Linked DNA regions of Homo sapiens. The protein of the gene in region 1 interacts with the protein of each later gene in a pairwise test. Each region holds a gene or a part of one and is shown in the gene's direction. Other genes may lie near its edges.

The links.
Region 2: the proteins of ZFP64 (region 1) and FAM124A interact in binary tests that used the Homo sapiens proteins (3 or more experiments, as listed by UniProt).
Region 3: the proteins of ZFP64 (region 1) and L3MBTL2 interact in binary tests that used the Homo sapiens proteins (3 or more experiments, as listed by UniProt).
Region 4: the proteins of ZFP64 (region 1) and MFAP1 interact in binary tests that used the Homo sapiens proteins (3 or more experiments, as listed by UniProt).

The regions. Positions count from the first base shown.
Region 1 is NC_000020.11:52,188,775-52,195,949, reverse strand, and holds the start of ZFP64 (zinc finger protein 64), read left to right. Parts: upstream 1-4,170; 5' UTR 4,171-4,313; coding exon 4,314-4,359; intron 4,360-7,175. UniProt on the Homo sapiens protein: May be involved in the regulation of mesenchymal cell differentiation through transactivation of NOTCH1 target genes.
Region 2 is NC_000013.11:51,217,928-51,225,408, forward strand, and holds the start of FAM124A (protein FAM124A), read left to right. Parts: upstream 1-4,470; 5' UTR 4,471-4,574; coding exon 4,575-4,642; intron 4,643-7,481.
Region 3 is NC_000022.11:41,215,300-41,222,333, forward strand, and holds part of L3MBTL2 (lethal(3)malignant brain tumor-like protein 2), read left to right. Parts: intron 1-839; coding exon 840-963; intron 964-1,732; exon of another isoform or gene 1,733-1,823; coding exon 1,824-1,903; exon of another isoform or gene 1,904-2,545; intron 2,546-2,559; exon of another isoform or gene 2,560-2,653; coding exon of another isoform or gene 2,654-2,923; intron 2,924-4,119; coding exon 4,120-4,237; intron 4,238-5,434; coding exon 5,435-5,569; intron 5,570-5,899; coding exon 5,900-5,988; intron 5,989-7,034. UniProt on the Homo sapiens protein: Putative Polycomb group (PcG) protein. PcG proteins maintain the transcriptionally repressive state of genes, probably via a modification of chromatin, rendering it heritably changed in its expressibility.
Region 4 is NC_000015.10:43,803,976-43,807,708, reverse strand, and holds the end of MFAP1 (microfibrillar-associated protein 1), read left to right. Parts: intron 1-2,243; coding exon 2,244-2,333; intron 2,334-2,432; coding exon 2,433-2,615; 3' UTR 2,616-3,217; downstream 3,218-3,733. UniProt on the Homo sapiens protein: Involved in pre-mRNA splicing as a component of the spliceosome.

The DNA.
Region 1 (7,175 bases):
AGTGCAGTGGTTCACACCTGTAATTCCAGCACTTTGGGAGGCCAAGGTAGGCAGATCCCTTGAGGCCAGGAGTTTGAGACCAGCCTGGCCAACATGATGAAACCCCGTCTCTACCAAAAATACAAAGAAATTAGCTGGGCGTGGTGGCACACACCGGTAATCCCAGCTACTCAGGAGGCTGAGGTGGGAGGATCGCTTGAACCTGGGAAGTGGAGGTTGCAGTGAGCCAAGATCGCACCACTGCACTCCAGCCTGGGTGACAGAGCGAGACTCTGTCTCTAAATAAATAAATAAGAGTGTGTTGATCTTGATGGAGCTTATGTTGAAAAATAACATTTTTTAAAAGTATAGAAAGAAAAATAAGAAATGAAAATAGGACATTTTCAGACCAGAAAAAGACTGTTGCAGTGGTCAAGATGTGTAATAGAGAAGGTTGGCTGGACATAGTAGCAAAAGGTTAAAATGGAGCTCATGGAAACATGCATGAAATCATTTCACAATAAAAAATGAACTGAGGATGCCTGTGTGCCAGGCTCTGTTCTAGGCCCCAGAGGATACAGGTAAATAAAATAGGCCAGGTCTATGCCCTCCTGGAGCTTACATGGTAGGGAGACAGATAATAACCAAAAATAATTAAAAGATAATAATAGCTAGGATTTATGCCGAGTTATATGAGTCAGGCACTATTCTAAGCACTTTACAGATATTGATTGGTTCCTCCTACAAAACAGCTTAATGAACTAGGTGCTACTATTATCTCCAAGCTACAGAAAACCGGGACACAGAGCAGTTGAATTTCCTATTCAAGGTTAAGCAACTAATCCTAGTTCAGCAACTCCAGGATTTGCATGGCAGTGGCATAGCCTAACTCCAGGGCCTACACACTTAACCACCAAACCAGTAAGGCCCAGACTTACATCATGATAAGAATTACCTGGGGCACTTTTGAGATATTTGCAGATTACCAAGTCTTACCCCAGAAAATTCTGATGCAGTAAGCATAGCTTGGAACCCAAGAACTCATTCTTTAGTGAGCCTTCCAGATGATGCTTCTCTTCAGGCAAATGTGAGATATATTGCTCTCAACAAAAGGAATCGTGACAATAAAAGTTAGAATGGTGACCTCTGCAAGATTGGATAGTAGGAATAGTATTATTTTATTTATTTATAGTTTTTTGAGACAGTCTCGCTCCATCACCCAGGCTGGAGTGCAGTGGCTCCATCTCAGCTCATTGCAACCTCCGCCTCCTGGGTTCAAACAATTTTCCTGCTTCAGCCTCTGGAGTATCTGGGATTACAGGTGTGCGCCACCAAGCCTGGCTAATTTTTGTACTGAAGAAAATGGGGTTTCACTATATTGGCCAGGCTGGTCTAGAACTCCTGACCTCAGGTGATCCGCCCACCTCGGCCTCCCAAAGTGCTGGGATTACAGACATGAACCACCTTGCCTGGCCAGAATAGTATTATTGGCTGGGAAGGTGCATGAGGGAGCCGACCAGGGCTGGAAATGTGTGTCTTGGAAGGGGACTTCCCAGGTGTGCACATATGTAAACATTCATCAAGCAATAAAAAATAAATATTGCCGTAAGCTGCGGTGCTCTGCTGGGTCATGTTAGCTAGACAGGTATCATGAAGGTGATGTCGCAGAGTCGCAGGGAGAGTGAATACTTTAGGTAAGACATAGGAAAGGTCTCTCTGGGAAGGCGACATTTCATTTGATGCTGGATGACCTAAAATAGCCAGTCCTGCAAAGACCAGGAAAGCAATCCAGGCAGAGGGAGGAGCAACAACAGCAAGGAGCCTGGTGGAGCTGCCTGGGCAATGCAGGGTGAGAGTGGTGTGATCTGCAGTGGGACTGGCAGGCCACAGCCAGTTACATCTAGCTCATTCCTGCCCCAGGGTTTTTGCTCCCACCAGTTCCTCAGGCTGGAATTGCTCCCCCCTCATCCTCACATGGCTGCATCCTCCCCGGCTCCTTGTTCAGATATTACCTGCTCGGAAAGGCCTGCTATGACCAGTTCTACAGCCACTATTACAGCCCCATTTTATGGTCTTTGGAGCCCTTATCACTAGCAAAATGTTGAGAACACATGGACACAGGAGGGGAACATCACACACCAGGGCCTGTCAGGGGGTGGGGGGCAACGGGAGGGAGAGCATTAGGACAAATGCCTAATGCATGTGGGGCTTAAAACCTAGGTGATGGGTTGATAGGTGCAGCAAACCACCATGGCACATGTATACTTATGTAACAAACCTGCACGTTCTGCACATGTATCCCAGAACTTAAGGTTAAAAAAAAAAAAGGAAGTTTTATATATATTTTTTATATATATAAATATATAATATATAATATATAATATTTTATATATAATATATATTGTATATATTTATATATAATATATATATACATAAATATAAATATATATTAAATATATTAAATATTATATATTAAATATATATATATTTACAGTACTGATTTGATTATTTCATGTTGACTGCCTCCCTGGTCTACCTCCAGCAGCTAGCCCAGTGCCTGGCACTTCACAAACACTTGAGAATAAACAGCTGCTGCAGGCAGAAACCAAGCCTTAGAGGCAGCAGCAGGGAAAATCCCATTCATTATACAAGCCATATTTACTAAGCCTACTATGTGTCAGGCACCAGCCAAGTCACTGGACTACATCAGTGAAGCAAAGAGATTTTTTTAATCCCCATTTTTACAGGGACTTACTGAAAATAAGGGGGAGGAGAACACAGATAATATACAACTAAATTATATCTAAGCAGATATACTCGAGATACATAATATGTTCCATCTAACACCTTTTAAGGACAAAGCAGGCCAGGCATGGTGGCTTACACCTGTAACCCCAGCACTTTGGGAGGCTGATGGAGGATCGCTTGAGGCCAGGAATTCGAGACCAGCCTGGGCAACATCTCTACAAAAATAAAAATTAAAAAGTGAGCCAGGGTGGTGGCCCACGCCTGTAGGGGGGATTGCTTGAGCCCAGGAGTTGGAGGCTGCAATGAGCTAGGATCCGACCACTCTTCCAGCCTGAGAGACAGAGAAAGACCCCCTCTCTAAAAAAAGAAAGGGAGAAAGAGAGAGAGGCAGAGAGAGAGAAAGAAAGAAAAGAAAAGAAAAGAAAAGAAAAGAAAAGAAAAGAAAAGAAAAGAAAAGAAAAGAAAAGAAAAAGAAAAAGAAAAAAACAGGAAGGAGACAGGGAGTGGTTGGGGGAGGAGGAGGGGGCTGCAATATTAGAATGATTAGATTAGGCCAAGCATGGCCTCCCTGAGTGTGAATTTGAATGCTGACCTTCAGAAGCAGGACAGACTCTATGGGCAAATCCCTCGAGGCTGGGAGAGGTCTGAGGCTTGGGAGGGTCGGCAGAGAGACAATAGGGCTGACGCAGGAGCCCGGGGGAGACAGTAGTAGTAAGACATGAGGGACAGAGCAGAGAGGTCACTGTCCTCAGAGTGTGGACGCCGACCAACACTAGGGGCATCACCTGGGAACTTAGAAATGCTCGTTCTCACGCCTCGCCCCAGACCTACTGAAGCAGAAACGCTAGGGTGGGCCCAACAGCGTGTGTTCTAACAAGCCTTTCAGGCGACTGCGATGCACGATAAAGTTGGCAGCTCCTGGAGCAGGGGTCCCTCCGCGCTACGACCCCACCTCTTCGCGGTCCTCTCAGTCTCCCTAGCGGGGCAAGGGACCCGCCCAGCGCTTTGCTGATTTGCCCAGCGCTCACGCCCAACCTGGGTTTCTCCGGAGCTCGCCGCGCCCCGCGCACCCACCCCGCAACGGCAGCCGCACGTGGGTCTCCCCGCAAACCACCCAGGCGTCCCGGGAGCAGCGCTGCTGCACGGCCGCGCTGGGGGCCCAACGCCTGGGGTTGCAGGTGCAAAAGGCGCCCCGAGCCGGGGAGGCCAATCGCGTCCGCGGAGAACGCAGAGTGCGGGCAGGGGCGCATCCCTCGCCACCCGCGGTCGCCCAGCACGCCGGGACGCGCGTGGCCATCCAGCTCCCCGGGGGCGTTGGGGGGCTCCGCGGGCCTGGGCCTCGGGATTCGCCCGCCGCTTCCCCGGGGAGCCGCTGCTGCAAAGCCAGGTTGGGGCGCCGGGCCCGGCCAGCGCCCTCTAGGCAGCGGAAGTGCAGCTTGCTTTACATCCGTCCTCCCCGCCTCGCAGAGTTGGGAGAAGGCAGGGTGGGGGGTGTGGAAAAATAAAAGGAAAAGTCCTTGCACCATGTAGATCAGCGTCCCCCACTTTGGCATCCCGGCCGGCCGGGGACCTCCCAGTCTGCGGCCATGAACGCGAGCAGCGAGGGCGAGAGCTTCGCGGGCTCGGTGCAAAGTAAGTGCTTTTCCGGGAGCAGTGCGCGCTCCGGGGCCCAGTGCGCGCTCCGGGGCCCGGGCCCAAGCACGTCTGCGACGCAGCCAGCAGGCCCGGGGCCCCGAAATCGGGGTGACGGCTCGGAGCCGCGTCTCGGGGACCGCGGCGGGCGCGCTGTGCAGGGGGCGCCGGAGTGGGCTTGGGGTGGGGGCGCACCCGACCTGGCGCAAGACCGGGGGCGCTCTCCAGCCTTGCGAGACCCCTTGGAAGGGAACAGTGGGGGAGGGCACGCCGTTCAGACAATCGCCACCCCCTAAGGGCATTCCCGCCCCATCAGGCGGAGTTTGGGGCGGGCAGGAGAAAGGGAGGAATCTAGGGTAAACGGGGCAACACTGATGGGAAAACTTCTGCCTCAGTGGCTCAAAATTAGAGCCTGGAGATTGGGGGAATCACCAGGTCTCACGAGGTCCTGCCGGCTCATTGCAAAGCCTTTTCCTCATTAAGGGTGGAGATCTGAATGGAAAACGGGGCCGTGGTCGCTTTATTTGGGTTTGGGGTTCAGTTTTTATTTAACCGAGGAGGACATCAGCGTTTTTCAAGTCCCTGGTTTCTCCCGGTGCATTGTTTCCCAAAGTGTGGTCCAGAGACTGAGTGCAACCAGCCACCTGGGAGCGAGAGCGTGTATTTTAAAACAGCTTTCTGGGCCCCACCCATTCAATCTCGGGGGTGGGGCTGGGGATCCGCTGTCCTTCGTAGCTGCCTGGGCAACTCTGAAGCACATGAAGTTTGAGAACCCATCTACCAGGGGTTTGCAGAAAATCTGGCACATAGTAAGCTCCCAGCTTGTTAGCTGCTACTGTTAACAGTTTGGGAGACACTGGGTCCCAAACTTGGCGGTGTATTCCTTGCATTACTGTGAAAAGCACAGATTTTCCTAAACACCATCCTCCCCACCCCACCCTGTTATGACTCAGTATCTCCTAGGTGGGGCTCAGATATGTCCATGTTTAAATAGTGTACCTCAGTAAGAACCCAGCAGGTAACATGCTGGGGGACTGGCGGGGAGGGGGGACTGTGCTGGTACGAGCACCATCCCATTTAATTCTCATAACAAGCCCGTGTTTTTTCTTGGAGAAATTAAAAACAAACAAAAACCATGGATTAGAAACCTCTCCTCCCATTTTTCAGATGAGAAAACCCACGCTTAAAGTCACTGTTGTTAAGCGACAGTGTCAAGATTCTAACGAAGGTCTATGTCGTTACTTTTGCACTTTCCACATACCAGTGACATTATCTGTTATGAAAATCCTTTCATTCTGGGTGTCAGTCCTATTCCATCATTAAGGAATCGTCAGCAATGCAAGCTACTTCATGTCTCACTTCCTTGTTTCCTTGTTAGTTCCATGGGTATCTCAGTATCTGCCAGAGAAGAAAAGGTTTCCTTCCTTCCATCCATTGATTGCAAAGTGCTTAAGTGTATCCCTGCAAGATGGCTTATCACAGTGCTCAGCCCAGTCTCCTTAGCAAGTCAACCAAACTGTATTTCTGAACAGAGATTTCTTGTCTTAGCTAGACCTGGGGAAAATTGGACATAATGTAAATATCTTACAAATTTTCAGAAAATTATGAGGCATAATTTTATCTAACCATATATGCACAAAGGTAGTCTTGTATCATTTAACTTGGGAAAAATTGGAAATTATGTAAATACCTTATTGTTGCTGAGAAGATTATGACGCATGGACACCATGGAATAATGTATTGCCATTAAATAATCATATATATATGAAGAGATTTTAATGATATAGCACAATGTTTATGCAATGTTTAGGAAAAAGGGCCAGGCACGGTGGCTCACGCCTGTAATCCTAGCACTTTGGGAGGCTGAGGCGGGCGGATCACATGAGGTCGGGAGTTCAAGACCAGCCTGACCAACATGAAGAAACCCCATTTCTACTAAAAATTCAAAATTAGCCTGGCGTGGTGGTGGCGCTTGTAATCCCAGATACTCCGGAGGCTGAGGCAGGAGAATCGCTTGAACCTAGGAGGCGGAGGTTGCAGTGAGCTGAGATCGTGCCCTTGCACTCCAGCCTGGGCAACAAGAGCAAAACTCCATCTCAAAAAAAAAAAGGAAAAAAATTAGGAAAAGGATTAGTTTTACAATACTATGATCTGAATATTTACAATATTATGATCTTATGCAATTTTTTTTTTTTTTGAGATGAAGTCTCGCTGTCACCAGGCTGGAAGTTCAGTGGCATGATCTTGGCTCACTGCAACCTCCACGTCCCAGGTTCAAGCAATTCTCCTGCCTCAGCCTTCTGAGTAGCTGGGATTACTGGCACGTGCCACCACACCCAGCTAATTTTTGTATTTTTAGTAGAGACGGGGTTTCACCATGTTCGCCAGGATAGTCTTGATCTCTTGTTGTGATCCACCCATCTCGGCTTCCCAAAGTGCTGGGTTACAGGCGTGAGCCATCTTACGCAACTTTTAAGTGTAAAGAAAATGAATGGAAAAAAATATTTTATAATATTCATGGTAGGCAGAGATGGAAATATTGAGTGATTTTCCCCTTCTTTATAAGTTTCTTCTAAATTTTCTTATAAACACGAGTTATCTTTTTTTTTTTATGTGAGACGGAGTCTCGCTCTGTCGCCCAGGCTGGAGTGCAGTGGCACAATCTCAGCTCACTGCAACCTGCGCCTTCCGGGTTCAAGCAATTCTCTTGCCTCAGCCTCTCTAGTAGCTGGGATTACAGGTGTGTGCCACCACGCCGGGCTAATTTTTTTTGTTTATTTTTAGTAGAGATGGGGTTTCACCATGTTAGCCAGGAT
Region 2 (7,481 bases), on another chromosome or scaffold:
AAAAATTATCTGTGTGTGGTGGTGCACACCTGTAGTCCCGGCTACTCGGGAGCCTGAGGCAGAAGAATCGCTTGAACCCGGAAGGTGGAGGTTGCAGTGAGCCAAGATTGTGCCACTGCACTCCAGCCTGGCGACAGAGCGAGACTCCATCTCAAAAAAAAAAAGAAAGAAAGAGAGAGAGAGAGAGAGACAGAAGAAAGAAAGAAAGAAAGAAAGAAAGAAAGAAAGAAAGAAAGAAAGAAAGAAAGAAAGAAAGTGATTCAGTTACAAAGAGGCCATTAGAGTTGGTCTTCATCTAATCTGACTGTTTAATTTACAAGAAAAGGAAATATGGACACACAAAGAGACCCAAGGATGCACACAGATAGAAGAAAGATACAGCAAGAAGGCAGCCGTCTGCAAGCCAAGGAGAGGCCTCCAAAGAAACCTATCCTGCTGACACCATGATCTTCTACCTCCAGCCTCCAGAACTGTGACGAAATCAACTTCTATTGTTGAAGCCATGCTGTCTGTGGTACTTTGTAATGGCAGGCCAAGCTGACTATCAGGCCGTTGGAGCTGGGGAGGACCAGGTGCCTGAAGGAAAGTGTCAGGATGAAAGTGGACGGAAGGCCAAAGCTTTCCAAGCCTAGGTTATTCGTAGAACCATAAATGGGTGACTTAGCCACAGTTCCCAGGAGGCGTGTCTATTCACGGGGGACTGGAGGGCAGTGCCCTGAGTCTAAGGTTCCCTTTGATTCTTAAATTTCCACAGCACATTTCCGGAAGCCAGCCTTTCACATTCCCATCTCATTTTACGCCCACCCACCCACCAGTTGTTGGGGGTCACAGTGGGTGGGTGGTCTGATGTCTGACTTGGACTCCAGATCTCGTCCGGGTATAAACTGCAGGCTGAGAATTCTTGGGAAGCCTCCAAGGCAGGACCACTATCTGTGCTCTTCCTTATCAAAGTGGAGTCATTTATATTTTAATGAGATTATTTCCCAACACAACAGTTTATCTTTCATTTCATTTATCCCTTTGCCATCTGGTCCCCTTATGTTTGCATGTAGGGCTAGTGGCTTTCTTTGTCTAAGTAGATTTGTCAATAGTTTATAAATTTTCTTCTCATGATCATAATATTTATTTTTCACATTAGACAGACTCTTCTGGAGTCTTGGAAGAAAGAGATTTCTTTTTTTTTAATTTTAATGTCATTCTTTAACCTGTAATTTTTGTTTCTGGGAAATGTGTTTTCAAAAAGTAATTAATTAATTAAAATGAATGAGCAAAAGTTTCCAGACCAATATATTTTCTGGTTCTATTTGCTACTGGATAACCCTAACAAATATTTTACTTAAGGGACTAAATCAAGCTCGCCTAATAGCAAATGGTACAGATGCAATGAAAGTGGCCTAGCTTCCCTCTAAACTGAAATCCAAATCTGGGCAAATTCTATGTTCTGGAGATATTTATTTTTATCTGTTTTCAGTCTCTTGCTGTAAAGTTCTTATCTTAAAGCTACTTAGCTCCTCTTTTTTTGGCCCCCTCCCAATTACTCTTGGCCTTCTTAATTACTAATCCATCTCTTTCATCAGCAAAGTTGATGGACTCTATTTACCATCCGATTATCTTAAGTTTTTTCCTCCAAGACAGGGCTTTGGCATTCCAGTCCTATTCTAATGGCTGATGGCACTACATACCTCTCAGGTGCCTGGTGGGAAGGCCAGCCATGCCCATTGGCCTTGCCTTCTCTTGACCCAAAAAGCTCCATTAGGCCAGAAAATAGCTCTGGCCTATTCCTCAACATATCCCCAGCACCAGCCCCTGCCTAGTACACACTGAGTGTTCAATAAATAAATGAATGAACTGCCTTGTTTTCTAACACACCAACACATGCAATAATATAAACAGAGACTGAAACATGCTTTATAGGTGAAATACAACAAAAGATTGATGTTCAGACCTTTCTGAGAAAAAGTGATTAAAAAATCAGCAATATCTTTTATTCATATGCTTCGTAGTTTCTAAGGGGCTTTGAATCTCCTGTGAGATTTATATCAACAACCCCATTTTAAGGACAAAGGAAGCCTCACAAGAATTTTGTGAGATTTAAATAAATCATGTATGTAAAATCCTTACCACAAAGACTGACATGTAGTAAGAACTTTGGAAACAGTTGATGGTCTATCCTTTTTCTCTATCGAGAGTTTAAAGAACTAGTACATGATGGATTCCGATCCAGAAGTCAGGTTTCATGTTTCCTAGCCTGTTACACTTCCTGCCATACCTCAGTATTCCCCCAACACTGTTCTCAGGCTCTGATAGGAATATCTTTAGGGCAGCAGTCAAGACACCCTAAGCAGACCAGTGACACTTTTCTGTCCCCATCTTAAAGGGGTGGAGGAGAGCATCGTACCCCCATGATTAAAGAGACTGACATTAAACAGCTGGACTATGGAGTGTGGGAACCATGTAAGTTTAGGGGCTAGATACCCTGCAGTGATCACTTGAAGGTTCTTGTGCTGGTTACCTGCCAGCAACTCTTATACCCCGCCCTCCCAAAAAATGGGCCAGGTGCAATGCCTCATGCCTATAGTCCCAGCACTTTGAGAGGCCGAGGCAGGAGGATCACTTGAGGCCAGGAGTTCGAGACCAGCCTAGGCAACATATTTTTCTCTACAAAAAAATTAAAACTCAGCTGGGCATGGTGGCACGCCTGTAGTCCCAGCTACTCAGGAGGCTGGGAGGATCACTTGAATCAGGGAGGTGGAGGCTGTAGTGAGCTGTGATTGTGCCACTGTACTCTAGCCTGGGCAACAGAGTAAGACCCTGTCTCAAACAAACAAGCAAAAAATGAAGTGAGGCTTTTAAAACCTGGGAACTGAAGCAGAAAGCCATGCATCACTAGAATACAGTGATACCGTTCAAGCTTCTCTTCCATATAATAAATGCATCACTGAGTTGCCATTAGACTGCTATGCCAATGATGAATGATAACACTGTGTCCCCTGTGGGCGAGGGGAACCTGAATCCATGCATCATTTTGAGATGTGGCTTGAGGTTTTGGTCTGGCATGCCCTTTCTCTGGATATTTGAGAAAGGCAGAAATCATTTAAATAGCATCTCATTTTCCAAAGCCCATCTTCTAAAAGTCATGCTGATTTCACCCTTTCTTCCCTGGCCTTTTCCTTAGTACCATCTTCCTGAGGATACAACTGGCCCACTCATCAGCCTTCTAGGTAAGTGGCACAGGCTCCAGCTACCTTAAGTGGACTACCTGGCTTCCCTGCTCACTGATAGGGTGTCCTGGGACCAGGCACTCGAACTCGGTAGGGTTTAGTTTCCTTGACGGTAAAATAGAAAAGTAAGCCTGTTTCACAGCACTTCCCTGAGGATCAAATGAGGCACAGTTTGAATTGTTCCCACACAGAGTAAATAAAGGCAGGTTCCCTCCTGGCTGCAAGATAAAAAATGGGCAGGGGAATCTCCCTTGAAGAACTGGCACGCTCCTTTCTTTCAGCTAATGCCCACCAATATGTCCATTGCTGTTTGGGGTGCAAGAAATTTTAGGCTCAGTAAGGACAATTCCTCCCAATGGTTTGGATAGGGCTGTCAGAACTAAATTCAAGTTGTTCGAAGTCTCCTTCCGCCCGCCCTGCCAACTTGCCTCCCTCTTCACCCTCCTAATAGGAGGTGAGCCCCTCCAATAGCGATCATTAACTCACCCTAAGGTTATCCCCTTGCTGCAACAACCCGTGAATTGCAGGTTCATTCAATGCTCTTTAAATTATTTTTAAAGGCTTTTTTTTTTTTAAGTAGCAAAAGAATGCATGACACCTATTGTAAACTGGCAAGTTGAGGGGGTGGGATGCCGCTCAGACGTGTACTGAGAAAGGTGATAATGAATTTGGCGTCAGCAATTCTTCAGAAACTATAAGAAAACACCCAGGTGTTCGAATTGGTCCCAAAAGGGAAACAAATCCTTCCCAGCTTTCACGATGCGCTGAGGTTGGTTTTCTCAGTGCTCCTCCCAGATCAGGAGGTGGGGAACCTCGTGGCAAGCCCTGGGGCTCGGGATTCCCGGACTGTGGGCCTGGGGGAGAGAGGCGGCTCTCGTGTGCACACTTACCCCGCCCCCACAACACACACGCGGTCACGCACCACAGACGGGCACACGCGCTCAGCACAGCCACAGTCGCGTGCAACCAGGAGTGCACACCGCACCCACATCACACCGCATGCACAGACGCACGGGTGTGAGACCACACACCTCGGCCACTCACGCTCACACGCCCCCCACGCGCTCGCACACGCGCTCGCACGCGCACTCCCCGCGCACCGCCGCGCGCACACGCGGGTCCCGCCGGACGGCGAGGGGCGGGGCGGGCGCGGGCGCAGGCGCGGGTGCCCAGCCGGGCGCGGTCGGGAGAGGGCGCGGCGCGGGGTTCGCGGCTGGCGCTTGAGTTGTTTGCCGGCTCCCGGGCCGCCAGACGCTCGGAGGGAGCCCGGCCGGCTCGGACTGGGCGGCCGGGAGGGAGGGCGCCCCGGGTCACGACGGCGCCCGCAAGCCGAGCGCGGCCGGGACGTGCACCATGGACCCAAAGGCGGGCGGCGGCGGCGAGGAGGACGACTGCGTGGACTCGGGCGCCGAGACCGGAGGGTGAGCCGCGCCGGGCCGGGCCGCGGGCGGGGGGCGCTCTCCGAGTTGCGCGGCGGCTCCTCCCCGGACGGGGACCCTCCTGATCCGTGCGACGGGACCGGGGCGCGGGGCTTCTCCTCCTGCCGGATCCCCCGCTCTCTCCTGGGCGGGCCGCGCTGCCCTGGGCAGGGCGGGCACCACCCGGGGGGAGGAAAGTGGAAGGACTCAAGGTTCAGTGCAAGCCCACCCATCCTGTGAGGCGATGCAGAGCGCCAGGCGGATGCAAAGACCCCTTGTCTGCATCGCTAGAGACAGGAGATGCTCTTGCACTTGTTTCCTCCTTCCTCGGGGACTTTCCTCCTGTAGCTCCGGAGCCCCCTGGAGTCCGGCCCTGGAGATCGGGAGAGGAAGAAAAGCAGGGTGGGACACCCGCACCTAAAAGTCTTTCCGAAGTCGGCTAGGAGGATGGCATTTCTCGTTATATGGCTTCATCGTGGGACTTTAATCTGTGCTGCCGAGTCCCCCTCCCCGACTCCTCCAGTCCCGCCGAACTTCCTCACCTCTAAGTGCACCTGTCCCAGCTGGACCCTTTGGCCTGTTGTACCGGCGGGATGGAGATGGTGTTGGGATTAGGATCTAGCCCTGCCTTTTTTTTTTTTTAATATTCTCTTCGCTTCAGCGGACTCAAACAATGGGCTCAAACCTTTGGAGACTAATTAGTTAGTCTCCAAACACTGTTTTCCTGAGCGGAAGAAAAGACAAAATGCCTTTTAGGAGATGAATGTCGTTATAAAGGCTTCCAGGCAGCCTCTGTCTCTAAAGGACTTTCCTGTGCAGAGTCAGCACCACATCCAGGCCGCGGGTACTGACCCAGGAGGAAAGGGTGTTTTTTCCTATCTGGAGTAATCCTGGGGGAGGGCGGGAGCTGCCTAGACTACAGAAAGCCTCATTCCTGGAAGGTCGGAGAGGTTTTAGACTAATCTCAGGATTTGGCAACCCTGTGAGGGCAGGTAGAGAATCCAGGCCCACGATCGACCCAGAGTTCTAACCCAACCCCGGCAAAGCTCCCCACAGGGCCCCTCCTGCCCCACCACTCCTAGCCCAAATGCGGGACTTTACTCCCTAGGGCATTCACCCAGCAATGGGCTTTCTCTGTTATCCAAACTTATTCATAGCTCTCTACAGCACCCAATTATAATCTGGTGGAGTAACCTGATGCTAAATGCCAAACTTCCTTTCTTCTTCCCACTCTTTGTGTAAGTGGCATTTATCAACTTTAACAAGATTATTGGCTTTTTTTTTCTGCCATTAGTTAGCTGGACCATGAATAGAAGAAACAAAGCAAAATTAACCAGCTTATTTGTAACTGCGTTAAATAAAGCATTCACTAGTCTATTCATTTTCAATTTGCAGAACTCACCTAAAACTGATATTTTTTTCAAGGGCTCTGTCTTAGAGAAGGGAGAGGAAGTCCTGGACCCAGGGGGTGACATCGCCCCAGGATCTGGACATCAGCATGACAGCGGCCAGGCCTCCTGGGAGGGGCTCCCCACTCCTGCTGACACCAGAGCTTCTGTTCTCAGCCTCTGTCACTAAAATGTGTAGTTGTAACAGGACAGAATTGTTTAAAGAATTCTTGGCCAGGTGCGGTAGCTCGCGCCTATAATCCCAGCACTTTGGGTGGCCGAGGTGGGCGGATCACCTGAGGTCGGGAGTTTGAGACCAGCCTGGCCAACATGGAGAAACCTCATCCCTACTAAAAAATATACAGAATTAGCCAGGTGTGGTGGCGCATGCCTGTAATCCCAGCTACTCGGGAGGCTGAGGCAGGAGAATCGCTTGAACCCGGGAGGCGGAGGTTGCCATGAGCTGAGATCACGCCATTGCACTCCAGCATGGGCAACAAGAGCAAAACTCCATCTCCAAAAAAAAAGGAATTCTTACTGTATCACTAGTATCCTTAAGCTAAAGGTAAAATAGCATGCATTTCAATGTATGCTAATTAGTTTTGTGTTTGCCATATATTCACAGAGCCCTTGAATTTCAGTTATCAAAAAGCTGTTCATCGTTTCCCTGCTTTTCCAGAGCTTGCCCCCACCCCTTACCCTATCCAGCTTTCACAGAGATTATGTAGAAAGCACATAGAAGACAACAAGTGTTTGCTATCGTTAGTATTTTTAAAATGCAAATCTGATCATGTCTCTCCCTTTCAAACTTTTATGGCTCTGTTATCTACAAATGCAAGGAATTTAACGTGGCCTATATGCCCTGACTCCTGTTATGGAGTCCCTTCTTCCCTCCCTGGCCTTGTTTCTCAGCAGGTCCTTCTTTGCGCCTTGTATTTTTCTGTTTCCTCGCCTTTGTCAAGCTGCCCTCTTTGCCAGCTCTGCCCTTCCCACCTGACTTGCCTGTCTGCCAGGTGAAACTCTACTCTTCTTTCAGGACTCAGCTCAAGTGACACATCTGCTAAGGCAGTGATCCTTAATTTGGGGTCCATGAATTCCTTCAAGTTGTATGCAAAATGATGTGCTTTGTGAATTTGTATGAGAAGAGAACTTTTTTTTTTTATCAGATTCTCAAAGTAGCTGGTGATCTATTCCAAACCAAGTTTGGGCAAGATATGAGACATTTCATTTTCAACACACTGTGTCTGAGGTGTTGCAAGACATCCAAGTAAAGATGATGAATCAGCAGTTGGGTATATCTGTCTGGAACTCAGAAGGGAGGTCTTCATGATGACATTGCATTTGGGTACTATTTACCTAAAAATGGCAATGGAAGCTCTGGGAGAGACTAAATCAACTGAAGGTAATAGCAAGCACTTTCTTAGCATTTAGTATGTGCCACCTACTGTTCTAAG
Region 3 (7,034 bases), on another chromosome or scaffold:
GGTTTGGGAGTACTTGCTAAGGGCTTGACATTCTCAGTCCAATTAACGATCTTAAAAAATTTGATTTTTAAAAAAATTCCTTTTTATAAAGGCTCAGAAATTTTAGTAACTTACTTAAAGGTATACAACTAAAAACTGTAGAACTGGGATTTGCCCTGTAGGTTTGTTTGGGACTTAAACCCAGATTTCTGCTTCACTGATCTCTTTAGTAAATTCCTGGCCTTCCTGTTCAGTACTTAAGTTACAAAATACAGACCAGATCAGTGGCCATTCCCTTTGGAAAGGGAGGACCCCCTTTGAGTACCTAATGAAAGCTGTGGGTCCTCTCCCAAACATTCGCCTATGTGGACCCTCTCCCGAACATTCGCCTATGTGGACCCTCTCCCGAACATTCGCCTATGTGGACCCTCTCCCGAACATTCGCCTATGTGGACCCTCTCCCAAACATTCGCGTATGTACAGAAGGTTGCCTCCCAGTTCATGAGCGTTTCTGGGCCCCTGTGAGGCCCATTCTTTGCTTTGGATCTATCAGTAGCGACACTGGAGGAAGGAGATGACTGAGACTTGAATCTGGGAGGACAGAAAGGCTTAAAAGATAGAACATGGGTCTCTCCCTGCTCTGCAGCACTGCCTAGCACCCCCTAGCACCCCCGACGCTTCCCCACAACCACCCCCTGAGCTCAGGATTGTTATTGTCATCACTGTTTCACACATGAAGAAACTGAAGCCCAAAAGAGGTTAAGTCACTGGCCCAAGCCCAGGACTTCAACTTGGCGGCCCAAATCCAGACTCATGATCCCAGCCGCCAGGCTACACATAGCCTCTGTCCTCCTCTCCAGGGAAAACCACCGACCAAAAAAGCCAAAGTCCTGCACAAGGCTGCCTGGTCTGCCAAAATTGGAGCCTTCCTCCACTCTCAAGGGACAGGACAGCTGGCAGATGGGACACCAACAGGACAAGACGGTAAGATAGCAGAGGGCCCTGCTTAGGAAGCTGCCGTGGCTGGGGAGGAGACTGGGTTTGGGGTGGCCTTTCCTAGGAATGAAGACTGGGCAAACCGGCCAGGTAGAAAGTGCCCTAAGTCAGGGTCACTGCGGATTGCATCTTCCTCACCTGTTGGGTATTGTGGAAATTACCCAGAAAAATGCCTTCAAACACCCTTAAATTATCAGGACTCCTACCCATGATAATTCAAAAGCCAAGAATTGGCTGTTTTTGTTTCTCTTTGCTTTTATCCTTTTGGTTTCTGTTTCCCTGGGGCAACGAAGGCCCAGATATGGTTTGAAGGCAGGTTTGGAGAGGGGTGGTGGGATAAGGAAAGGAGCCTCTCTCTGAGTGTGTAGCAATTGCTAAGCAAGTTAAATGTATGCATAAAGCAACTCTGCTATCATTGTTCTGAGTTTCTAACTGAAATTGAGCTCAGCAGGCCGGAGCTCAGTTGGAGGGGCCCTGGTGTGTGCGCACCCCCTCCCCCACATTTAGATTGGGTGTGGCCAATCAGGTTCAGGGCGGAGGGAGGAATTTAAGCCCAGGGATATTTCAGTTTTCCCCTTTGGGGGAAGAAGGGCGAGAAATTTCCCTTTGAATGTTCCTCTACTCCTGAGAGTCTTGCCACCTTTCAATTCAGTCCTCAACAGTGGTCCCTCATGGCCACTGGTGGATCAGGTATGGGAGTGAAGGAGGGTGTCGTGGGCAGCGCTGTGAGAGGGGCTGCTGGGGGTGGGGGACCTACCTCTGCAGGTCCCACAGGGCCCTTGGGGTCCAGGCTCCTGGAGTGGCTGCTGCGCAGGCTCCTAGTCTGACTCGTCCTCTCTGCTCTGCAGCTCTGGTCTTGGGCTTCGACTGGGGGAAGTTCCTGAAGGATCACAGTTACAAGGCTGCTCCCGTCAGCTGTTTCAAGCACGTGAGTGCCCTGGAGCTGAGGGAGGGAGGCCGGGGAGCCGGGCCTGGAGCTGCTCCTCCACCTGCTTCACCAGGGCGGCTTCAGGCTGGACAGTGACAGTGGGGAGGTCTGGGCAGGAGACGGATGGCGTTACCACTCGCTCCATTTCATGTTTATGTCAAAAAAATCCTCCTACAAACACTTCTATCACCTGCTTGGCTTCACTCCCGGTCTGAAGCCCTTCAGTTTATTTACATGATGGAACTTGGTGCTAGCTGATGTCGAAGGGTCTTTGCAGTCTGAAACCCTTCTCTCCTTTCTCCCCCATTTGCAGCATTTTCCCATGGAAAGCAGGGTGCTTCTGTAGCTGGCCTGGGCCCCGTGGGCCCCGAGAGGCAGATGTGGATGCTCCTGGAGCCACTTCTGTAAAAGGCTCCTCGATGCGGATCATGTAAAAGCCAGAACGAAGGGCAAGGCCCTTAGGGGCGGGGCTTGAGCGCAAGAACCGAATATCCAGCAGCTGTGACGTGTGGAGCCTGCAGGCCGGGAGAGCAGAGCCCACAACAGCACTCTTGTTTTGTCTTCACACCACGTCCCTAAGCTCCGGGAAATCCAGGAGGAGGCCTCTTTAGTCTTGAGGAAGTAGGGAGTCTTTTACCCAGAGTAAGCCACTTCCTCTCCTCCTTTCAGAACTGCCACTGAACTCTGGGGAGTGCCCTGAACAATGACAGCTGCTTCTTGACTCAGCTAACTCACTCCTCTCGTCTCTGAATGGCTAATGAAGGTGCACCTCCTTCCTGCTGGAGGGGGAGCCTCTTTTTTGCCCTGAATTCTCTAATAGTTTCAGCATTTTCATTTCCAGGGAGTTGCATCATCCTTGTGTCTAACACATATAATCCAATTTGCTTTGTAAAAAGCCTGCCCCTGCGTGCCTGGGCTAGCGCAACTGTGTCCGGGTTCTGTGATGAACTAAACTCAAGTGACCAGGGAGATGGAATGGGATACCTCAACTGGCTGAAGCCAGGGCTGAGAATAAAAAAGGTGAATTTGGCCAGGCGCAGTGGCTTACCCCTATAATCCCAGCACTTTGGGAGGCCGAGGCGGGTGGATCACCTGAGGTGAGGAGTTCGAGACCAGCCTGGCCAACATGGTGAAACCCCATCTCTACTAAAAATACAAAAATTAGCTGGAAGTGGTGGCAGGCACCTGTAATCCCAGCTACTTGGGAGGCCGAGACAGGAGAATCCCTTGAACCTGAGAGGCGGAGGTTGTAATGAGCTGAGATTGCGCCACTGCACTCCAGCCTGGGTGACGGAGCAAGACTCTAAAAAAAGTGATTCTCCCAAAGGAGAATCAAAAGTACCATTGGCAGGAAAGTGAGGATTAGGTACTGGGAAGGCAACTGAAACAGTCCAGTGCTGTCCTGGGGCACTTTATTTTATTTTATTTATTTTTTCGATATGGGAGTTTCACTCTTGTTGCCCAGAGCTGGAGTGCAATGGCACTATCTCAGCTCACAGCAGCCTCCCCCTCCCAGGTTCAAGCGATTCTCCTGCCTCAGCCTCCGGAGTAGCTGGGATTACAGGCATGTGCCACCACCACGCCCGGCTAATTTTGTATTTTTAGTAGAGACATGGATTCTCCATGTTGGTCAGGCTGGTCTCGAACTCCCAGCCTCAGGTGATCCGCCCGTCTCGGCCTCCCAAAGTGCTGGGATTACAGGCGTGAGCCACCATGCCTGGCCCCCTGGAGCATTTCAGTAGGAGGGGAGGTAGAGAGTAAACTTGCAGGTGGATGGCTGTGTGTAAACAAGGGGGTCATAATGCCCACAGCCCAGGTTTGTATGATGATTGAAGGAAAGTATATTTGTGCTAATATCAGCGCCCTGCCATTGCTCGGGCTGGCACAGGGACGAAGGGATCGAGGCTCACCAAGGCATCATGTGCCCAAAATGATACAGTAAGAAACCAGTCCTATAAAGATTTTAGGACTCGGTTCTGTCTGACTCTGGGTCTCTAGCCATCACCCTGCATCCCACCACCTCCACCTCTACTCCCGGCTTAGCTCTTCAAGGACAGGAGACCTCATCTCTTTATCTCTAGTAGCTGGTTCTGCACACAGTGGGTGATGTGAAAAGTTGAGGTGCAAACGAGGACTTGACTGAGGCCGTGAGGCAGTCTGTCTCCCCTGCTAGCACAGTTAGCTCACTCTCTCGGTACACTCTCATCGCCACACAGGTCCCACTCTATGACCAGTGGGAGGATGTGATGAAAGGGATGAAGGTGGAGGTGCTCAACAGTGATGCTGTGCTCCCCAGCCGGGTGTACTGGATCGCCTCTGTCATCCAGACAGCAGGTGAGTGTTTGGCCAGGGCAGGGCCAGGGATGTGTCTGCAGAGTGACATCTCTAGATGGGTGAACAGTGTTGTAGGCAGGAGTTGGCTTCATAAAACAAAAATCCCACCCACTGGAATTTTTGCCCCACTTCTAAGGATTCTTTTACCGGAGAAGGGAACACAGAGCTTGGCAGGCTTGGAAACCCCAAATTTTTTTGTTTGTTTTTGTTATTTTGTTTTTTTTAGATGGTGTCTTGCTCTGTCACCCAGGCTGGAGTACGGTGGCACGATCTCGGCTCACTGCAACCTCCACCTCCTGGGTTCAAGCGATTCTCCTGCCTCAGCCTCCCGAATAGCTGGGACTACAGGCCACCTGGCCACCACACACGGCTAATGTTTGTATTTTTAGTAGAGACGGGGTTTCACTATCTTGGCCAGGCTGGTCTCAAACTCCTGACCTCAGGTGATCCTCTGCATCCCAAAGTGCTGGGATTATAGGCGTGAGCCACCGTGCCTGGCTGGAAACCCCAATTTTTAAAGTTTGTTCCAGGGCCAGGTTTCGTGGCTCACACCTCTAATCCCAGCACTTTGGAGGCAGAGGCAGGAGGATTGTTTGAGCTCAGGAGTTCGAGACCAGACGGGGCAATATAGTGAGATACTGTCTCTATAAAAAATGAAAAAATTTAAAAAGTAAAATTCATTCCAAGGATGATCAGGTTATAGAGAATTAACTCTCAGCACCATTCCATAATGCTTTCCGAACTAGGAGCATGAATTTGTTTGGCTAGGACTGTTGTGGACAACAGGAATCCACTTGCCTGGAAGTATAGGTGCCAGAAGTCCAGCTTAGGCTAGAGAAAAGAGAAGGCTTAAGAACATACCTTCCCCAAGCTAGGCCCGGTGGCTCACGCCTGTAATCCCAGCACTTTGGGAGGCCGAGGAGGGCAGATCACGAGGTCGGGAGATCGAGACCATCCTGGCTAACACGGTGAAACCCCGTCTCTATTTAAAATACAAAAAAAAATCAGCCGGGCGTGGTGGCAGGCGCCTGTAGTTCCAGCTACTCTGGAGGTGGAGCTTGCAGTGAGCTGAGATGGCGCCACTGCACTCCAGCCTGGGCGACAGAGCAAGACTTCGTCTCAGAAAAAAAAAAAAAAAACAGAACATACCTTCCCCAGCTCACCCTCCCTCACAGGTGCCCTTTCCTTTCCTTTCAGGGTATCGGGTGCTGCTTCGGTATGAAGGCTTTGAAAATGACGCCAGCCATGACTTCTGGTGCAACCTGGGAACAGTGGATGTCCACCCCATTGGCTGGTGTGCCATCAACAGCAAGATCCTAGTGCCCCCACGGAGTGAGTTGATGAGAACATTTCCTCTCTTGTTCCCGTAGGGCCCCTGGTAGAGGGAGAGTCCTCTGCTTGTGTTAGGTAGAATGGGAGTCCTCTGTCTTGTTAGAACAGAATCCACTTGCCCCCTGGCTTCCTGCCCTCCCCATCCCAGAGGCCTGGGGGCAGATCCACGTGTGGAATCTGATGTTCTCAGATGAAGTCATTGCTGGCCTGAAGAGGCAGCTATTTTCAGTCCCCACTGCTGAGGGGTCCCCACTCTGGGTCGGCGCTAGCGCCCCTGTCAGTGGAGGTTTGTCAGTCTGTGTAACCAGGATTCTGCTGGTGCCTCCACAGCCATCCATGCCAAGTTCACCGACTGGAAGGGCTACCTCATGAAACGGCTGGTGGGCTCCAGGACGCTTCCCGTGGATTTCCACATCAAGGTCGGCAGTGAGCCCTTAACTGATGTGCCTCCTTCCGCTCTTCCATTTTTCTGCATCCTGCATGCCACTCACTGGAGCATGTTACCTAAGACCCCTTGCCTGATGATCTTCAGCAGCTCCACATTTTGCAAGGCTAGAGACAAATGCTGCTGCTACGTGGTTGCCATCTGCCTTTCTAGCCTGGCGTCGGCCACTGCCCCACCCAGACTCTGCTCCTACTGCTCCAGTCATGCTGCTTTGTCTGCCTTTTGCTCTTCCGGAACCTTACCTTTGCTCATAGAATTTTTCAGAAGTGTTCACTCAATAGATTTTATTAACATACTTTTTTGTTTTTTGGGAGACGGAGTCTCGCTCTGTCCCCCAGGCTGGAGTGCAGTGGCGCGATCTCGGCTCCCTGCAAGCTCTGACTCCTGGGTTCACGCCATTCTCCTGCCTCAGCCTCCCAAGTAGCTGGGACTACAGGCGCCCACCACGCCCAGCTCATTTTTTTGTATTTTTAGTGAGATGGAGTTTCACCGTGGTAGCCAGGATGGTCTCAATCTCCTGACCTCGTGATCCATCTGCCTCGGCCTCCCAAAGTGCTGGGATTACAGGCATGAGCCACCGCGCCCAGCCTTTTTTTTCTTTTTGAGATAGAGTCTCGCTCTGTTGCCCAGGCTGGAGTGCAGTGGCATAATCTTGGCTCATTGCAACCTCCGCTTCCTGGGTTCAAGCAATTCTTCTGCCTCAGCCTCCCGAGTAGTTGGGATTACAGGTGCGCACACACCACCATACTTGGCTAATTTTTGTATTTTTAGTAGAGATGGGGTTTCACCATATTGGCCAGGCTGGTCTCGAACTCCTGACCTCAAGTGATCCACCTGCCTCGGCCTCCCAAAGTGCTGGGATTATAGGCATGAGCCACCATGCCCAGCCTTACATACTTGTTTACAAGGCACTGTGGGAATACAAAGAATACAGACCCTGCCATCCAGAAATCTCTAGTCTGGCAGAGGAAACAAAAGCCATGCACACAAGTAATTGTAATATAGCCTCGGTTCTGAGCC
Region 4 (3,733 bases), on another chromosome or scaffold:
GAAGATTGAAAGGGTTGACGTAAAGGTTGTAACATTTAAGCATTTAAGATGTATAATTTTGGGCCGGGCGCGGTGGCTCACGCCTGTAATCCCAGCACTTTGGGAGGCCAAGGCAGGCGGATCATGAGGTCAGGAGATTGAGACCATCCTGGCTAACATGGTGAAAACCCATCTCTACTAAAAATACAAAAAATTAGCTAGGCGTGGTGGCGGGCGCCTGTAGTCACAGCTACTTGGGAGGCTGAGGCAGGAGAATGGCGTGAACCTGGGAGGCGGAACTTGCAGTGAGCCGAGATCACGCCACTGCACTCTAGCCTGGGCGACAGAGTGAGACTGTATCAAAAAAAAAAAAATTAAATATATAATTTTTTTTTTTGTCACCTAGGCTTGAGTGCAGTGGTGCGATCTTGGCTCACTGCAACCTCCGCCTCCCGGGTTCAAGCAATTCTCCTGCCCCAGTCCCCCAAGTAGCTGGGAATACAGGCGTGTACCACCACGCCCAACTAGTTTTTGTATTTTTAGTAGAGACGGGGTTTCTCCATGTTGGCCAGGCTGGTCTTGAACTCCTGACCTTAGGCGATGTGCCCACCTCAGTATCCCAAAGTGCTGGGATTACAGGCGTGAGCTACTATGCCCGGCCAAGATGTATAGACTTTTTGACATTCGGTGCTGGGAAGACATTCCAGGTGGAGACCAGCAGGAGTGGAGGCAGAAAGCATCAGCTGTGAAGGGAAGCGGCAAAGAGAACTGAAAAGGTGGATTAAGGCTGTATAATATTTGGCCTTGATTACTACACAGAGGAGTTGTATTCATTTATTTATTTATTTATTTATTTTTGAGATGGAATCTCGCTCTGTCACCCAGGCTGGAGTGCAGTGGTGCGATCTCAGCTCACTGCAACCTCCACCTCCTGAGTTCAAGTGATTCTCCTGCCTTGGCCTCCTGTGTAGCTGAGATTACAGGTGCGCGCCACCAGGCCTAGTGTTTTTTGTATTTTTAGTAGAGACAGAGTTTCACCATGTTGGTCAGGTGGGTCTTGAACTCGTGACCTCGTGATCCGCCCGCCTTGGCCTCCCAAAGTGCTGGGATTACGGGCGTGAGCCACTGCGCCCAGCCTAGGTGTTGTATTCATTTAATAGACAACCATTGAAGTTTTTGAGCAAGGCAAAGATTATAATGAGTTACAGTCTAGAAACATCAGTGCCATGACAGTATGTGAGACTGATAGTAGAGGAAAACTAATAACCCAGGTGGTAAGAGTTTGTAAGATGTGGCAACTGATTGAATGCACACAGAGGTTACTCAGTTTTGAATCTAGGTAATCGAAGAGTACGCTGGTCCTACTAACAGAAAAGTTAAAGAGAAGAGGTTGATATGGAAAGGTTAGGTATTAATAAATGGTTTTCACTTTAGACGTGCATTTCAAGTCCCAATAAAATATCCAACTTATGATATATGAAAGCCAGTAAAAAATCCAGGATTGCAGATTTGAGAGGCCTATGCAGAGTTGAAGTCACATGAGTAAACAAACACATTGAGTGCAGAGAATAAGCCAACCTTCAAGACACGTCTACACTCAAGGAGAAAATTAGGCATAGTTGCATGCACCTGTAGTCCCAGCCACTCAGGAGGCTGAGGTGAGAGCATCGTTTGATCCTGGGAGGTCAAGGCTTCAGTGAGCAGTAGTGACCCCACTGCACTCCAGCCTGGACATCAGGACATCAGAATGAGACGCTGTCTCAGGGAAAAAAAAAAAAAAAAAGGAGAAATACAACAAAGGAAAAAGAATATCATCTCGGCCGGGCGCAGTGGTTCACACCTGTAATCCCAGCACTTTGGGAGGCCAAGGTGGGCAGATCGCAAGGTCGGGATATCGAGACCATCTGGGCTAACACGGTGAAACTCCGTCTCTATTAAAAATACAAAAAATTAGCCGAGTGTGGTGGCATGCACCTGTAGCCTCAGCTACTCGGGAGGCTGAGGCAGGAGAACTGCTTGAACCTGGGAGACGGAGGTTGCAGTGAGCCAAGATCGCGGCAGTGCACTCCAGCCTGGGCAACAGAGCGAGAGTCCGTCTCAGAAAAAAAAAAAAGAATGTCATCTCTTCAACTAGATGTAAGCTCTTGAAGAAAGGCTCAATACCCTCTGCTTTCTCTGTATCCCTTATTGTAGAGTTTAATAAATTTGTGGTTTGAATATATAGGAAATAAAGCCACAAGATTGATAAGATTTTTTTTATACAGGATGAGGATGAAGAAGTATACAAGAGAGATTTCAGCGCTCCTACCCTGGAGGATCATTTCAATAAAACCATTCTTCCTAAAGTCATGCAGGTATGGGGAACCTTAATAACATGACAGAGAAAAGTGATGTATTGATAGCTGAGGCATGGTTTGTTTGGTGGTATAACTCATCATCCATCCTTCCCTCAGGTCAAGAACTTTGGACGCTCAGGTCGCACCAAATACACTCACCTTGTGGATCAAGATACCACCTCCTTTGACTCAGCTTGGGGCCAAGAGAGTGCCCAGAACACAAAGTTCTTCAAACAAAAGGCAGCTGGGGTACGAGATGTATTTGAGCGGCCATCTGCCAAGAAGCGGAAAACTACCTAGGGTCCAACTGCTTATTCTTCCAACTGTGGAACACAAGGGGAGTCTCAGCATCTGGTCCTTGATTTGGTTTTTTCATTGTTTCCTTGGCCCCTGTATCCAGATATTGGACTTACTGCTATACTTGTGATACTGGGTAGCCCAGACTTTGAAGGTGCTTTGTGAGGTTTGGACTCATGCTGAGAAACCCACAGGAAAGCACTGTCCAGGTAGGATTAGAGGCTTCCCACTTAAAACTATTTCTGAGAAATCTTAGGTTTTATCACTGCTATGGTTTCCCATATTTACTTGGGACTGTTCTGACTTTCTTTTTCCAGCCCTTAGCTTGGGTTAGAAAAGTGGACATGTAAGTGAACAATGCATTACTTCTACCTTAGGTTTAGGAGTAATATACCCGGAAATCTAAGCTCATGGAAACATGTTTTCCATTTTTGCTTGGAGTCCGTTTTTCTAGTTGTACATACTTTTTGATCCATATATGTGTGCATGTCAAGAAATAAAAGAATCACACAACAAGGAGATTTTTAGCATGATACTGGAAATAAAATGTCCAAGCTGACAAGTATTAATTGCCTATTAAAGTAAAAGATAACAATTGTCAGGCAGAAGGTGTTTCACATTTTGATAATTCCCTTTGATCTCAGAAACAAGCTCAGGTACTAGCTTGGCTTTAGGTAGCATCTGGATTTATTCCATGACCAAATACAGATGTTTTTGAGAAGACCAAGGTCTTCTCACATCCTTTAAATGTCCCACTGGAAGAATCAAATAGTTTAGTGTCGTACGATAAAAATGAATGCAAATAATTACTATGAGGTGGTAAATACATAAAGATGAACACAGGTACAAGTCACTGTTGTGTGGGATACAATCTAAGAATTATCCTAGAGTCAGAATGAGGGTAAGGCCTTGAAACTCTTGGAGAAATGTCTGTAATTGCCATTTGAGTGTCCTTACAGCAGACTCAGGGGCCGTTGCAGGGTTTTTTTTTTGTTTGTTTGTTTGTTTTAAAGAGACGGCTCTGTTGCCCAGGCTAGAGTGCCTCAGCCTCCCGAGTAGCTGGGACTACAGGCGCCTGCCACCATGCCTGGCTAATTTTTGTATTTTTAGTAGAGACGGGG